Linked DNA regions of Homo sapiens: region 2 is linked to region 1. A link means that fine-mapping ties the variant in region 1 to the expression of a gene that starts in the linked region. Tissue or cell type: pancreas. Region 1 holds a variant in brackets; the other region holds the start of a gene. All regions are shown on one strand. Distances are between the middles of the regions.

Region 1 (8,102 bases):
CACCTGGTTCTCCGGGAGGCTCTTCCGGATTCTCTCAACAGGGCCACTCTGCTGGCTGGGACTCGGCTCTGTAGTCATTTTTATAAGGCCGTATTTCTTACCTGTTGCACTATCCCTCCTCTGAATGGTTGCAGACAGGGAGTGTGTGTGCATGTGTGTGCATGTGTGCATGCGTGTGCGTGGGTGCGTGGGTGCATGTGTGTGCGTGTGTCCGCATGTGCATAGGTGTGCACGTGTATGTGTGCGCGTGTGTGCGCTGATATGCTACAAGTTCACCTTCCCTCTCTGCACAATTGTGCCAGCGTTCACGTAAACTTTACTTCTCTATAACTCTCCATTTGCACCTTTGTGGGCAGCCAGCCATCCAGGTGCCGAGGCAAGAGACCGAGGGCACGAGCTGTTCCAGTATGATAAAATATACAAAACAACCCTATATATAGAGAGAGCATATAGAGTATAACTCTTGTTGTTTTATATATTTTATCATACTGGACCAGCTCGTGCCCTCGGTCTCTTGCCTCGGCACCTGGACGGCTTGCCGCCCACACACGTTGTGGCCCACACACCTTGTCTTGGAGAGAGGCTCAGTTGAGATTACAGATCCCTCCACAAAATCCCCAAAGCTGATTATCTGGCCTCACGGAGGGGACTTTCCATTTAAATCCAAGTAACAAAGAGAAAAGCACAGCGATGGTGGCAGGCCCATCCCCACATCACCCCCGTGCCACAGCCCCAGCCCCGCAGGGCCACCTACTGAAAAGCCTGTGGGCTGCCCCTGGGCTGACCCACGATCAACACCCACATGCTGCTCTGAGGCTCCAAGTAGTTCTCAAGTTTGCTTTCTTATCTTGTAAGAAGAAAAGAGAAGTATTGACAGTTTAGCAAGAAATATCCACTAACAAGATAAACTCAGCATTAAGAATCCCCAGAGGTTTCAGGGGCACCAGCATCGTGCAGAAGAAAGAACAGAGAAGACGGAACAGTGGAGCAGCCGGACGCTGACTGTGCAATCGGTGAATGGAGGTCCTCATAACATGGGAGAGGCCAGTCCGGGAACAACAGCACACTGCAGCGGAAAGAGCCGAGCAGAGACGCTGTGCGGGAGCCACTCCGCAGAAAGGCGAGTCCCCGGTGACCCAGGATGAAGAGGCCTCGTGGAGCCAGCGGTGAGGAGGAAGCATTGTTCACAGGGCAGCACTAATAAGAAATGCAGGCTTTGTTTGTTTGTTTTGAAGTTACGAAGTTGAGAGTTGAAGGAAAAACTCACAAATGCCAATGTCGCTCTGACAGCAATTCCGGAAAGAGAGGAACAAAGCCTTCGTGGCTGCGAAGATTTAGTAGCTGCGATTTCCCAGTGCTAAGGAAAGCCATGAAAGAACTCTGTGAAAGGGCCTGCGGAGAACCACACGGGGAAAATCAGAGAAAAGTAACTCAGACATGTCAGAGCAACATCACAGAACACCAAGAATAAAGAGAAAATGCTGTCAGCTACCCAGGAGGGAAAAACAGGTTTAAAGACTGCATACCTGTGAATGAGAATCAGATGGACATAAGAATTCTCATTAGCAACACCGGACGCAAGAATAAAATGAGGCAATAACCTCAACAAAGGAGCCATAATTTAGACGGCAAGATCCGAAAAGCCCCTCTGAGGGGTGGTTCTCAGGCTAAGCTGCTGAGCAGGGGTAGCCAGGCACAGAGTAAGAAGTGTTCTGAGGACAGGGTCAGCAGGTGCACAGACAAGGGGGAAGGGCTGGAGGGGATGACGGGAAGCCAGGTGGTTGGGCAGAGCGAGCCACGAGCCCGAGGCAGTAGGCAGCCCAGGGACTTCATGCCTGGAGCTCATGGGGATAACCTGACCACCCATGCCACGGTCCAGGCCAATAGTGATTGTGGCTGAGATGAGGGCGGAAGAATGTTTCCTTCATAAAGCATTTCACACCGCCTACATGACAGCAGTCTGCTCTTTCTCCCACTGGCTGAAAACTCTGAGAAGACACAGCTCCATCTCACCCAACCCTCGGTCCCCCAGAGCACCAGGAAGAAGGCGGGTGCTCCATCAGTACTCGTAAAGAATTAACACTAAGCAGGTCTGCCAGCTCTTCTCATACTGCTTAAGAAAGCTCCTGGAGTTTGTACACGGCATTCACTTATTTGCATAATAATTTCACCTCTCCCCCTACATGGGGCGGGCACTATGTCCACTCTAGAGGTGAAGACACAGCTACGAGAATCAAGTGACATGTCCAAGCTGGGATGTGCTGGCACGCCAGTGTGTCTTTACCACACCTTGCTCAGGCTTCAAAACCCCAGAGCGAGACTCACTAACCAGCATGACTACTCACCCTCGTCTCCTCTCCTCCTAAAGATAAAGCAGTAAGGACAAGTTTGTCATGATAGCTTCTGACCAACCTCCACCTGCATCCATCTGCCTGTCTCTAATCTGATTTTTAAAAACTGGTTGGCCAGGTGCAGTGGCTCATGCCTGTGATCCTGGCACTTTGGGAGGCCAAGGCAGGAGGATCATTTAAAGGCAGGAGTTTGAGACCAGCCTGGGCAACACAGCAAGACCCCATCTCTACAAAAAAATTAGCAGGGGTTGGGCATGGTGGCTCACACCTGTAATCCCAGCATTTTGGGAGCCCAAGGCGGGTGGATCACCTGAGGTCAAGAGTTTGAGACCAGCCTGGTCAACATGGTGAAACCCCGTCTCTACTAAAAATACAAAAATTAGCCAGGCGTGGTAGCGGGTGCCTATAATCTCAGCTACTCTGGAGGCTGAGGCAGGAGAATCGCTTGAACCCAGGAGGCAGAGGTTGCAGTGAGCCAAGATCACGCTATTGCACTGCAGCCTGGGCAACAAGAGCGAAACTCCATTTCAAAAAAAAAAATAGCAGGATGTGTTGCTGTGCACCTGTAGTCCCAGCCACTCAGGAAGCTGATGTGGGAGGAGCTCTTCAGCCCAGGAGTTGCAGGCTGCAGTTAGCTATAAGTGCACCACTGCACTCCAGCCTGAGTGACAGAGCAAGATCCTGTCTCTAAAAAAAAAAAAAAAAAAAAAAAAAAAAAAAAAATCAAAGAAAAATAGTTCATAGTAACAACTGGAGGCACGGAAAGAGACCCTGAAAAGCACCACACATTACACTGTGTCCCACAAACTCTCGTTACTAAAGCAGGAGAGAAAGAATCATAAGTCATTAAAAACAGCAAGACTTTCTAAAGAAGAGGATTTAACACACGTTTTCTTTATATCTCTCAGCTAATCACAAAATCCACTTACATGCCATCTCCCAAGGGCTCTGCTTAATGGACCTGTGTCTGTAGTTGTACAGGGCCAGGCGCATTTCAGCCAGTGCTGGGCAGCAGGCACCCCAAATGCCTCACGGCTGTGCCTGCAGTGTGGGGAACCCAAACCTGGAGTCAGAAACTGCTTTCCTTCCTGTGCAAAACCCAGCGTAAGCCCTCCCAGCCTGGTCCTCCTCAGCTCTGATGGGGATTGAACAAAATATGCCCTGGAAGACACCGTGCTGGTTGTCACGAGAAAAAGTATTTTAATCCCTGGTTCAGGACCAACAGCACTGAGGACCAGAGAGTACAGAGGCCTCCCATCCACGGCGGGGCTGCCCTGGTTTCTCCACGGTCCCCGTCGCCTCCGCCTTGTAGACTTGCCCTGTCCACGCATCTTAAGAACCAAGGCTGTTTTCAAGCACTGTTCACAATTTGGCAGGGTTGTTTTTTTGTTTTGTTTTGTTTTTGTTTTTTGTTTTCCAGAGATGGGGTCTTACTCTGTTGCCCTGGGTAGACTCAAACTCCTGGGCTCAAGTCATCCTCCCACCTCGGCTTCCCAAAGTGCCGGGATCACAGGCGTGACCCACTGCACCTGGCCAATTTGGCAAGGTTTGAAGTGTTCATTGTCCACTGGTCCCAGGGGTCATAAAGATGTATGTCCCTGCAGGTAATGACTCCAGAGCAGGATTTCTATACACGTCCCCACTCAACACTCCATGCATTTTGTAATGTAGACCCAGCGAGCACAATGACATTTTTCCCACATCCTTTTCATTTTCAGGATGATTGACTACATAAAGTTCTAATGACAAGTTATTTCTCTACCAGGAGAGGCTAACATTTCAACTGCTGGCTCACTTCCACCATCACCACAACGCAGCTCTCTCCTCGCTCAAAGAAACAAAACGTGGCTGACATTTACTGTTTGCTTGGCTTCCCTGCAAATCATGTACAAATCTACGAACAAAAAGCTTTTACCTAGATC[G/A]TATTTGGGGTCATTTCCAACCCAGCTAGGAAGGCGCATGTCAGTTATTTTATTGAGAACCTAAGATACTTCGACATATTTATAGCCAGTTGAGGAAGATCCGTGGACAGTGCTTGACTGTCACGCCACCTGCTTACAAGCTGAACAAACTCGTGTGCCAGCGACTTCACATCCCTGCTGGCCACAACAAGTGCCACGGCACCCCAGGGCCATGGGAAGTCAGAGAGGAGAAAGCCAGGACCTCAGCCTGCCTGGCTTGTTCTACACAAGGGGAGACGGCACAGACAGGCCGTCAGGTGTCAGAAGAGCAAACCTCCCACAGCGCATGTTATTCAGGCCCCATTACTGGTTTTATCAATGTTGTTTTAAAGAATGGCAGTAAATGATTTTAAAATTAATTTGATAGGCCAGGTATGTTGGCTCACACCTGTAATCCCAGCACTTTGGGAAGCCAAAGCGGGTGGATTACGTGAGGTCAGGAGTTCGAGACCAGCCTGGATAACATGGTGAAACCCCGTCTCTACTAAAAATACAAAAATTAGCCGGGCGTTGATGGTGCGCGCCTATAGTCCCAGCTACTTGGGAGGCTGAGGCAGGAGAATCACTTGAACCTGAGAGGCGGAGGCTGCAGTGAGCCAAGGTCGCACCATTGCACTCCAGCCTGGGCAACAAGAGAGAAACTCCATCTCAAAAAAAAAAAAAAAGCAAAAAAAAAATTCATTTGATAAAGCCTATAAGAAGAACTATGACCTTTCATATTTCTGGGAAACACATTTGTTAATACAGATAAATGTTTTCTCACCTACAGCCATTTTTTTAACCATTAAAAAAAGACTTTTTTCCCATTAAAAGGAGTTGTCATTCTCTCTAAATGTAAAGACAATATATTATTCCCTCTAAATGTAAAGATAATATATTATTATTATCTGAAATGGCCTGGAATGGCAAATAAATGTCATCTCAAGCACCACCAGCAGTCAGCGGCAGCCTGACTCGTGTGCTCAGGAAGATTCTCCAGCCAAATGTGGAGTTGGCAGAGGTTTCAGGATCCAAAACACAGGGGGTTGTGGGGGTTGGGGGGGCGGCGCGTGCTGTGTTTCTCAGACCAGATGCCACCCCGTGTCCGGGGCCGAACGGCGGGACTGTGAGGAGACAGGCCGCGGCTTCTTCATCCCAGCCCTGAGCCTGCCTGGTGGATTCTCAACGGACGCTTGTCTAATGAATGGTGACTGCGTGTGTGTCTGTTTCCTTAGAAGCTGGCACTGTGCCGCACGCTGCCTCTCCTCTTTGACCTCCAGCGACCCTGGGGGGCTACGGCACATGCTGGGGCCGGCAGGGATGAAGTCTGCTGGCACACACCATTTTCTCCATTGAGTAACCCAATTCCTGACATGCTGGGTATCCTGAATCCTTCTAAACCGCTCCTTGCCCCTGGTGCTCGCCTCTCGCTTGCGGACTCGCGGGGCACGTGCTGGACGGACACCTGATCTGCTCCCTGGTCGGGCTCGCTGCCTGCACAGGGTTAGTGCTTTGTAAGTCACTGTCCCAGAGCAAGGAGCAGGGGCTGGGTCCCCGGTCACTGTGTGCCCACTCCTGGTGCCACCACTGCATCCCCACAGAGCCCCAAGCTGGCATCGCCTCCCCAACCTCACGGACCAGGAGGCCGAGGCTTGGGAGGACAGGTGACCCGTCACGCAGGACGGCTGACCCACAGCACCCTCAGACCTGCCCTACTTCCCAGCCTGCAAAGGTTGAGAAGGGACCCTACCCATGTGGGAAATGACAGCACATCCAGGGGACCCAGGACGTGGACAGCTGGGAAGGACCCTCCCAACAGCACCTGGGAAAGGCGGCGCCCAGAAAGGACCCTGGAGCCCACCCCACGGCCCCCACCAGTGCAGGCTACTGACCTGGCAGGGCGCAGGGAAGACAACCGTAGGGACTCGGAGGCACCCACCACATTGGGCAGGGACGTGACCTCCACAGCCAAAAGTCCAGCTCTCCACAGCCACCGTTTCCAACCTAAAGCTGAAGGTTCCACTCACAAACCCACACACGCTACCACAAAGTCAGGGCCAAAGCCACTTTCACCAAAACTTCTGAGAGAGCCGTAGGCATCCAACAGTTTAAGTTGCTTCCAACATAATTAAACATTTTCTAAAGCAGGTACATTTATCACAATTAAAAGCACAAAGGCCACTGGGCTTGTCTGGGCTGCAGGACAGTCCACTTGGTTTCCAACAGCAGGGCTAACACAGCCGGAAAAAAGCCCCCAGCCAGAGCTGCACAGCCTGGCAGGGTGGCCCCGAGCTGTCCGGACCCTGTGCCCCGGGAGAGGGCTGACCTTTTCATTTTGTACAACACGGGCTGAGCAGGGTTTGTCTTTCGTGGTGACTGTTTTGATCATGGGTTTGAATCTACTTTTCTCTAATGTTTCAATAAAAAGAGCCGCAGACGCTCCACAGGAGAAGCTGAAGGCCCAAGCGGACCGCGGATGAGGAGGGGGCGGACCGGATTCAGGTTGCAAAAGGTCAATGTGCCCCTCCCCCTCCTCAGGACCCACGTGACTCCCCTCCCCTCCTCAGCACCCACGTGACTCCCCTCCCCCTCATCAACCACGTGACTCCCCTCCCCCGCCTCCTCAGCACCCACGTGGCCGCCCCTCCCCCTCCTCAGCACCCACGTGACTCCCCTCCCCTCCTCGGCACCCACGTGACTCCCCTCCCCTCCTCGGCACCCACGTGACTCCCCTCCCCCTCCTCGGCACCCACGTGACTCCCCCGCCCCCTCCTCGGCACCCACGTGACTCCCCCGCCCCCTCCTCGGCACCCACGTGACTCCCCCGCCCCCTCCTCGGCACCCACGTGACTCCCCTCAGCGGCGGCCTGGACTCTGCTGCGGCCGGTGCAGCCCCGGCCCTGCCACCCGACACTGGCACACACTCTGCTGTCCCTTCTTGGGTTCTGTAATTTTGAACAAGGGGCCCACATTTTCATTTCACACCGGGCTCCCCCAGGCTTGGGGACCTGTTGCCTCTGCTTTGTAGAAGCTGGTCATTTTCTTACTTGAAGATGCTGCTCTGGAGGCTTCAGATACCGCAGCCTCAGGGACTTTCTCACCCATGCCTCACCTGCAGAACTATCTCTATCCGGGAGCAGATTACAGACAAAGCAACAAGAAAAAAAAAAGTTCCTGTCTTTTTTTTTTCCCCTAACCACTAGACCACCAGGGATTTTTTAATTTTTAAAATAAAATATTAAGAGCTCTCAGGAAGCAATGTAGAAGCACACTTTGGGAACTTAACACAAGTTGCAAATTTTCTCTGACCCTCAAATTTCCTTATCTGTAAAATGGTCCACATGAGATCATCTCATGGGGAGGATCACACGAGGCCATGTGTGCAGGGTCTGACGGAAAGCCAGGTGCCTTCCAGCAAGGTCCCCCCGGAGAGGGCTGAGTTGCAAATAAATTGCCATCTTCAGAATTAGGAATTCCATGGCCGAAGACAGTTTAGACATCATGTCACCCAACCCTTGATTTCCAGATGGGGAAACTGAGACCCAATGGGGTAAGCAGATTTGCTGGGGCTTTGTGCTTTTCCGTGGAACTGCGCAGTTGCATGGGAGTCTCTCAGCTGGCCCGGAGGCCACTGCCCAGCAGCCCAGAGTCCAGGGAGCGGTTACCTTTGAGGCCAGGGACGAGGATCTGCACAGAGCAGGCGTCATCGCCAGCCGGCTGAGGATGTCCAGATGGCAGCAGTGACAGGAAGGCCAGGCTGATTAGAACGCCCACCAGGGCCAGATTCCCCCTCATCCTGAGCGCAGGCAGG
Region 2 (8,102 bases), 34 kb after region 1:
TTTAAAAGTTTTTCAAAGTACTAAGCCATAGAATTCAAGTTCTAGAAAAGCTGGCACCTACCTTTCCACATACCACAGCTCGACACAATAACACATTACCAGACTCCCAACACTGTGTTCTAGTGGTTTTCAGAACAAGACCGAGTTAAAAAAAAAACATTCTTAGCACTACTAGTACTAGCTGCAATCAGCAAATTATCCCAGCCTTGGATCAGTTTCCTCATCCACTGAGAGTAACAATACAAATTAAACATGTTAGAGGGCACAGGCAACACTAGGATTTTTTTTTTCTTCAACTCATCCTTAGGGAAGAGTCCACAGGGATTTAATAGTTCACATTTGTAAAACAACATACTAATCAGAGACTAACAAAATACCAAAAGATCTAGTTCAAGAAGACAACTACCAATATTTGAGTTTATGCCAGATAACCTGTAAGTCAATCAAGTTCATAAATCATTTTCCATCAGCATCTTCAACTGCAGTGATATTTTAACCTGTGATGTTATCACCAAAATCCACCTACATTTTTTTACCTCCAATCCACAGCAAAAATAAAAATCAAAGATAAATCCAAGCCCATGTCAACTGTGTCTAGCATGCTATATCACAGAATTAAAGTAATGATTTCCTTCTCATCATTCCTATCCTGTGCACAAATAATCGGAGGAAATCATCTCATCTTGTGACAGCACTGACCTAGTAGGCAAACAATGGCTACATGAATACATGTATGTTTTACATCTAGAATTCTAAAACGTATCATGTGCAACTATACAGGAAACCAAATGCTGCTACTCAAAAATTCCCACTTGAACATCTGTTTTCATAAACTACAACTTAAACAAATTAAGAGTTGTTAATAAGAGGGGTACACACATTTCTGAAACTACTAAAATACTCACCTCCTGGGACGCTTTTGCTTATTTTTTGTACGGCTTTTTCGAGTTGGCTTAGGCAGAATTCTCCTCTGTAAGGTAAAAATTATCATGTAACAAAATGAAAAAAGACTTTAAATTGACAAAAAGCTGTAACTGCCATACTGCTTTAAAAGCAAGAAGAATGGCAGGGTAAGTTCAAAGTTCGAGAAGGCTAAACAACTTAGACGAACAATTGACTGAGCAAACCCTTCTATGGAGTTACTTCCTGATTCTTGAATAAATCATTCAGAATCCACAGCCTCTACTAATACGCCAGTGGACAAAATCTCCCAGATACGCCTTTCCCCATGCCTATGACCCAGAATACTACTTTTATTCCAGATCAATCCTGGCACTTCATTCCCCATAGACTTCAGTTTGCACCAATCCCCCATCCGAACTGTAACAGGTTTCTTCTTTTTTTGAGATGGAGTCTCGCTCTGTCGCCCAGGCTGAAGTTCAGTGGCGGGATCTCGGCTCACTGCAAGCTCCACCTCCCGGGTTCACGCGATTCTCCTGCCTCAGCCTCCCGAGTAGCTGGGACTACAGGCGCCCACCACCACGCCCAGCTAATTTTTTGTATTTTTTAGTACAGACGGGGTTTCACCGTGTCAGCCAGGATGGTCTCGATCTCCTGACCTCGTGATCCGCCTGCCTCAGCCTCCCAAAGTGCTGGGATTACAGGAGTGAGCCACAGGGCCCGGCCTGTAACAGGTTTCTTAGTTTGATCATCTATGTAAGCAACCCACTAGACTTGTGGAAATTTAAATATGGGAAATCATTTTCATAACTCAAAACACAGCAGTCTGTCACTTTACAGACTTCTTGTTTCGACTCTTAATTAAAGAACGTACTTTATCTTTCTTTTTAAAACTTATTTTTTCTATTTTTTGTAGACAGGGTCTTACCATGTTGCCCAGGCTGGTCTCTACAGTGATCCACCCGCCTCCACCTCCCCGTGCTGGGATTACAGGCCTAAGCCACGGCGCTCTGCCTGTACTTTATCTTTCTACCCAATTGGATTCATAAAAGGATTGTTTTCATGACTCCAACTACCAATGCAGTCTAAATACAAGCAATTTTAGCAAAATTCACAAACAGAAACGTGCTGCAACAGTAGAACAGATACCTGAGCGATAAAGACGACATGCTTCCCACTGAACTTTTTCTCCAATTCGCGTACTAGCCGGACTTGGATTTTCTGGAAAGATTTCAGTTGAGGAACGGGAACAAAGATTATGATAGCTTTCCGACCACCACCAACTTCAATTTCCTAAAGAAAAAAACAAAAATCCACTGTGTTAACTGCTTCAGAAAGTAAACGTTGTGGTCAAATTAGAGGATAAGAAGACCTTATCACTAACACCGTAGCTGCACTACAAACTAATACTAGTTTTGAGTTAATCATAAATGCATCCTTCGGAAATGTTCTCATCTCTCTCCAACCTTCACATTTCCTTATTCCAGGAAGGGAGACTGTTCAGGCCAGGAGGCCAATCACTACCACTTCTGCACCCCCACTTGCGGCAACTCCGGGCTAAGGGTAGAGAGAATCTCATCCTGAGCTCCCCACAGCTCTTTGCCGTATCTATAACTAAGTAAGGGCAAATAAGGTCCGAAATGGGCCCAGGCCCTCCCTACTCCACGTTTCTCCACCGCCCGCATGTGGACAGCTTAAGCCGCAGGGTACCTGCAACCCCACTCCCCGCACCTGGGCGGTATCACTCCCAAACAACACGGCCGAACCTGAGTTCAGGTTAGGCGGCCAGGCGGCAAGTCATCATCAACCGTAACCCAGGTCCAACCCTCTCAGGCACTGCGCGGGGAGACGCGCCGCAACCTCCCTCCCAGCCGAGGGAGCGCCAGCTTACCTTAGCTGCCGTAATATTCAGCTCCCTGAGCTGAGCCTTGAGGTCCGAGTTCATCTCCAGCTCCAGAAGAGCCTAAGAAGCAACGAACAGCAGGACCGACCCTGAGCGCGCGTCCGAGCACCCCGGGCCCAACACACGCGCGGCCGCCTCCCCTCCCGGGCGGGGCGCCTCCCCCCACCCCAGACCCCAGGGAAACCCTCTCACCTGGGAGATGCCGGACTCGAACTCGTCCGGCTTCTCGCCATTGGGCTTCACGATCTTGGCGCTCGAACTGAACATGGCTTTCTCCTGGGAGAACTGAAGGCACAGCGGTCAGCGTTACGCGGCCCGGGCTGCAGGCGCCGCTGGCTCGCCCTCCCGCCCGCACCCCCCGGCCAGGCCCCGCTCGCCCCGCAGAAGCCATCGGAAAGCACAGGGCGGGTAATCGGCTGTATCCCCACCCTGTGAGCAAGGCTCGCCCCTCCAGGGCCTGACTCCAAAAGGCGTTTTCCTCAACCCAAGAAGAAAAGTTCTGTCGGAGAGCAGGCCGCCAACCTACCTTGCCGAGCGCCGGCTTAGGAAGAGACCCAAATCTCGCGAGAGCACGTCAAAATCCGGCGTCCGAAGGCAAGAGGCGGAAACAGCGCGAGGAGGAGGGCGGAAACCGGAACATCACTGAGAAGCGGTAGGAGGCTAGAGAGTCCCAGGAAGCGGCTCTGGGGACGAGTGTCTTGGTAACGCTTTTCCGCCCTAGGATTCGTACTTTGGTGCCGTTTCCGAGCGTTCCGGTACCGGCTCCCAAGGTTCCCGTCTTCAGTGCAGGTTGCAGGCGGGAACCGGCCTCGTCCCAGCCCTGGGCCTGGGAGAGAGAAGGAGGCCGAAGAAAACCAACTTCGGCAACCTCCGGAGACAGGACGTTTAAAAAAGGCTAACTTGGCTGGGCGCTGAGGCTCACGCCTGTAATCCCAGCACTTTGGGAGGCCGAGGCAGGAGGATCACTTGAGCTCAGGAACCAGCCTGGGCAACATGGCGAGACCCCATGTCTACAAAAAAAAAAAAAAAAAAATTAGCCAGTCATGGTGGTGCGCGCCTGCAGTCCCAGCTACCCCGGAGGCCGACGCGGGAGGATCGCTGGAGCCGAAAGGTCGAGGCTGCCGTGAGCCGAGGTTGCACCACTGCACTCCAGCCTGGGCGACAGCGCAAGACCCTGTCTAAAAATAAATTTAAAAAAAATTGCGAGGCCTTCATTCTATGCTAGTACTGTACTAGGTGCTAATTATTAAGTAAAACCGACTGAACTCTTGCCCTCATGGAGCTTACAGTTCAGTGGAGAAGACATTACCTAAAGCAGTATGACTAAATATATAATGACATATTGTAATAACTTACATAACAGTACAATGAGAGGGTGGGGAGGGATTATTTATGCTTTAAGAAGTCGGGAATCCTGGAACGGAATGACATTAGACTGAGACACGGAAGAGCCGCAGGATCTATTGCTGGGGAAGAGCATTCCAGACAGGGAGGAACTCGTGCCGAATGATCCCGCTGTGGACAGGGAATTTAATCTGAGCTTCGGTTTCCTCTTCTGTCAAATGTCATGCAAGAGTTACTTTCAGCCGTGGTCCAGGCACTGTGAAAAATGCAGAAGCCACACTAGGTGCCCTCTCTCAGGATTCCCAACCACCTTTACCAAGCAGAGATGGTATTCATCCCACATTTTTAATGCTAGATATGCTCCCGCCCGGTGCTTCTCTAATAATGTTTTTTAAAAGGTAAGTGACTGTCTCCTTGGAAAATTAAGGATAACTTGAAGTTTCTTCCAGATAGAAAGTAAACTACAGCTGCGTCTACAATCTCATCTGGGCAGTCGTTCTGAGCCCTTTTGTCGAACTAGGTCCATTTCCTTACTCCACATGCACTTTTCGACCTGGCTTTTATCTCTGCTGCTCTATAAAAGTAGTAATCTAAAAGTTCATCCAGTAAAGCTTTTTCTCTGTGAACCTATCACTTGAGAACAAAAAAAATTAAAGTTATTTCTGGTTTCCAGTCCTTTGTTGAATAGGAGTGGTGAGCAAGGACATCCGTGCCTTGTTCTCCATCTTAGGGGAAAACCATTCAGTCTTTCACCATTAAGTATAATATTAGCTCTAGGATTTTGCAGGTATTTTTAATCAAATTCAGGAAGTTCCCTCTGTTTCTATTTCTGAGAGGTTTTTTTAAAATCATGGGCCGGGCACGGTGGCTCACGCCTGTAATCCCAGCACTTTGGGAGGCCGAGGCGGGTGGATCACGAGGTCAGGAGATCGAGACCATCCTGGCTAACACGGTGAAACCCCGTCTCTACTAAAAATACAAAAAATTAGCTGGGCGAGGTGGCGGGCGCCTGTAGTCCCAGCTACTCGGGAGGCTGAGGCAGGAGAATGGCGTGAACCGCCGGGGGCGGAGCCTGCAGTGAGCCGAGATCGAGCCATTGCACTCCAGCCTGGGTGACAGCGAGACTCCATCTCAAAAAAAATATATAAATAAAAAATAAAATAAAATCATGAATGGATGTTGGAGTATGTCAAATGCATTGTTTCTATGAACTAATATGATTATGTGAGTTTTTCTTTTTAGCTGTTAATGTGCTGTTAATATACATAAATGCTTTTCCTTTCTAACTCTTTAGCTTTGAGCCTCATGAGATCCTAAGAAATGTGATTTTTAAAACCTAGAACCTGATAGAAGTTGATAGAGGTTGCACATGTATTTTTAATAGGTAGTTTCAGGATCATAATCACAACTTAGAGGGTCATTCTACTAATTTTATGTTAGGAAATGCCTACTAATCATTACATTAGATTGTTTTCCTGGTTTTACTAGTACTAGCTTCTTTATTATTTAACCATACAATAAGTGAGTCGATAATACCAACATGATTGACAATGAACAGAAATATCATCTATGCAATCCACTTACTTTTAGAACACTTTGTTAACTCTTTTATGTATCATTATGGACATGGGACATTTCAGATTTGCTGTACATCAATCAGTCTCAGCCAATATTCTCCTTTGATCCTCAAATTGTCTCAGTTGTGACCAGGAGGGGCCCCTCTTAGATAAGCAGCCGAGTCTTGTCATTTCTATGAATGTCTGAACATCTTGTTTTCTGGCACAAGATATTCCAGGCTCCTCTTGTAATTTTCTGCCTGAGACATAGAATGAGCCTTTTCTCCTAGAAGTGCTGATACTTTTGTTTTTGTTTTTCTGGAAAAATAGTACTGGAGACCAGAATTTTGGCAGCAGGAGGCATCGTGGGGCTCCTCATAAGCCGTTTCAGCGGACAGAACTTAGAAAGATGGCATTTAAAATAATTTTTTCATAAAAGATACAAGTTCACATTGACATTCTCAATCCACTTCTAACAGAACAATTCCTTCTGAAATCCTCGATTCTATCATAGCATCTCCTTTTCTCCTGTAATAAAAACCTTGCTTCCTAAACACAAAAATACAATTACTTGCTTTATCTGACACTATGAGAAAATACATTCAAAATAACAATGCAGGTGGGCCGCAGTGGCTCACACCTGTAATCCCAGCACTTTGGGATAATCCACCCAGGGTGAGTGGATCACTTGAGGTCAGGAGATAAGCCTGGCCAACACAGGGAAACCCTGTCTCTACTAAAAATACAAAAATTAGCCAGGTGTGGTGCCACCCGCCTGTAATCCCAGCTACTCGGGAAGCTGAGGCAGGAGAATCGCTTGAACCTGGGTGACATGAACTCCTGACCTCATGTGATCTGCCCACCCTGGCATCCCGAAGTGCTGGGATTACAGGTGTGAGCCACCATGCTCAGCCCTTGTTGACTTTTGAATATGTGAAACACTCTGCTTCTGAAAGTCAAAGCCATCTAAGGAGGTCACTCCCTTGAGAAGGCCACACTCCACCGGCCCCTGCCTTCCCTCCTGCACCCAACCTTGCTTTCTGGTTCATGCTTCCTGGGTTTCTTTTTGCTTGAATGTATATTTTCTTACCTCTCCTTCATTCTTACACAAAAGCAGGATTTGATTTTTGCATTTTGTGTTCGCCTAAACATATTTCCTGGAAATCCCTCCATGTCAGTTCAGGAGACCTCCCTCATGCTTTTTCACCACGGCGTCGCTCTCCGCTGGGCTGTCAGACCACTTTCACCCAGCCCGTGTTCTGTGGAGACACTTGGACTGCATCCGAGTCATACTCAACATTTTGAAATTTTAAACAATGCCCCACAAATAAACTTAGGCATATGCGTTAGGATGCTTTTGGAGCAGCCCCTTTGGGATAAATTTCTAGAAGTGGGATCTCAGCCTCAAAAGGTAAAGGCATAAGTAATTTTGTTACGCATTGCCACCTTCCCTTAGAAAAGCGCTGTGCGTCATATGGGAATTCTTGTTTTCCCACAGCATTCCCAACAGAATGTGTCATCATACTTTTTAATTTGTTTCTATCTGACAGGTGAAAAATGAGACCGCAATGTAATTTAATTTGCATTCTCTAATTCAGAGTGAAGTTGGCATCCTTCCATGGGTTTCATACGTTCAAGGACCATTTTAAAGCGTTTTATACGTTTTTGTGTGATTGTTTTCTGCTCATATTTTAACCATTTTTCTTTTTTCTTTTCTTTTTCTTTTTTTTTTTTTTAGGTTGAGAGCAGAATTTTAATAGGCAAAAGAAAGAGAAGAGCTCTCTGCTGCAGACAGGAGTCCTGGAGAAATGGGTTGCCCTCTTTTTTCTTTTTCTTTTTTTGAGACAGTCTCTCACTGTCACCCAGGCTGGAATTCAGTGGCGCATTCGTACCTCGCTGCAGCCTCAACCTCCTAGGCTCAATCGATCCTCCCACCTCAGCCTCCCGAGTAGCTGGGACTATAGATATTTAACCATTTTTCTATTGAGATTTGGTCTTCTCCACCACCCACCACAGATTTTTGTAATTAGAGGTCATTTTTCCAAACAAATGATTCTTAAGGTCCTGCTGTCTCTGAATATTATTTTTATAGAACAAGCATAAGTATAATTGGATCAATCATCTAACCTTTCAGATCCTCAACTTAGTCTTCCATTAATGAGAGGATTAAATCCATTAGTTAAATGTTCTCTAAGAATCAGTGTGTCTCCAACTTCAGTGTACAAACAGCGGGTCACCCAGGGATCGCAGTGGGACGCAGACGCTGATTCCGCAGTTGTGGACTTGGTGGAGGTGGGCGCTGTCTCAGTCCATCTGGGCCGCTATACAGAGTGCCACAGACAGAGTGGCTTACGGACAACAGATGCTCATTTCTCACTCTCTGGAGACTGGAAGCCCAA

The links. PIP is the estimated chance that this variant, and not a neighbour inherited with it, causes the effect.
Region 2: RPS7 starts here. The variant in region 1 is fine-mapped to the expression of RPS7 in pancreas (GTEx, PIP 0.95).

The regions. Positions count from the first base shown.
Region 1 is chr2:3,604,325-3,612,426 of GRCh38, reverse strand. COLEC11 (collectin subfamily member 11) reads right to left here. Exons shown (of 7, transcript NM_024027.5): 2 at 7,957-8,102. The coding sequence starts at 8,086. Among named protein-coding and RNA genes, the nearest start is that of COLEC11, 13 kb to the right of the region's middle. The variant G/A (reference allele first, on the strand shown) is at 4,274.
Region 2 is chr2:3,570,578-3,578,679 of GRCh38, reverse strand. It overlaps RPS7 (ribosomal protein S7), which reads right to left and starts at 3,420. Exons shown (of 7, transcript NM_001011.4): 1 at 3,330-3,420; 2 at 2,996-3,088; 3 at 2,792-2,863; 4 at 2,050-2,193; 5 at 906-970. The coding sequence starts at 3,070. It overlaps LOC124907726 (a long non-coding RNA gene), which reads left to right and starts at 3,571. Exons shown (of 2, transcript XR_007086196.1): 1 at 3,571-4,545; 2 at 7,442-8,102. RefSeq lists a silencer at 2,874-3,163 and enhancers at 2,715-3,291, 3,292-3,867.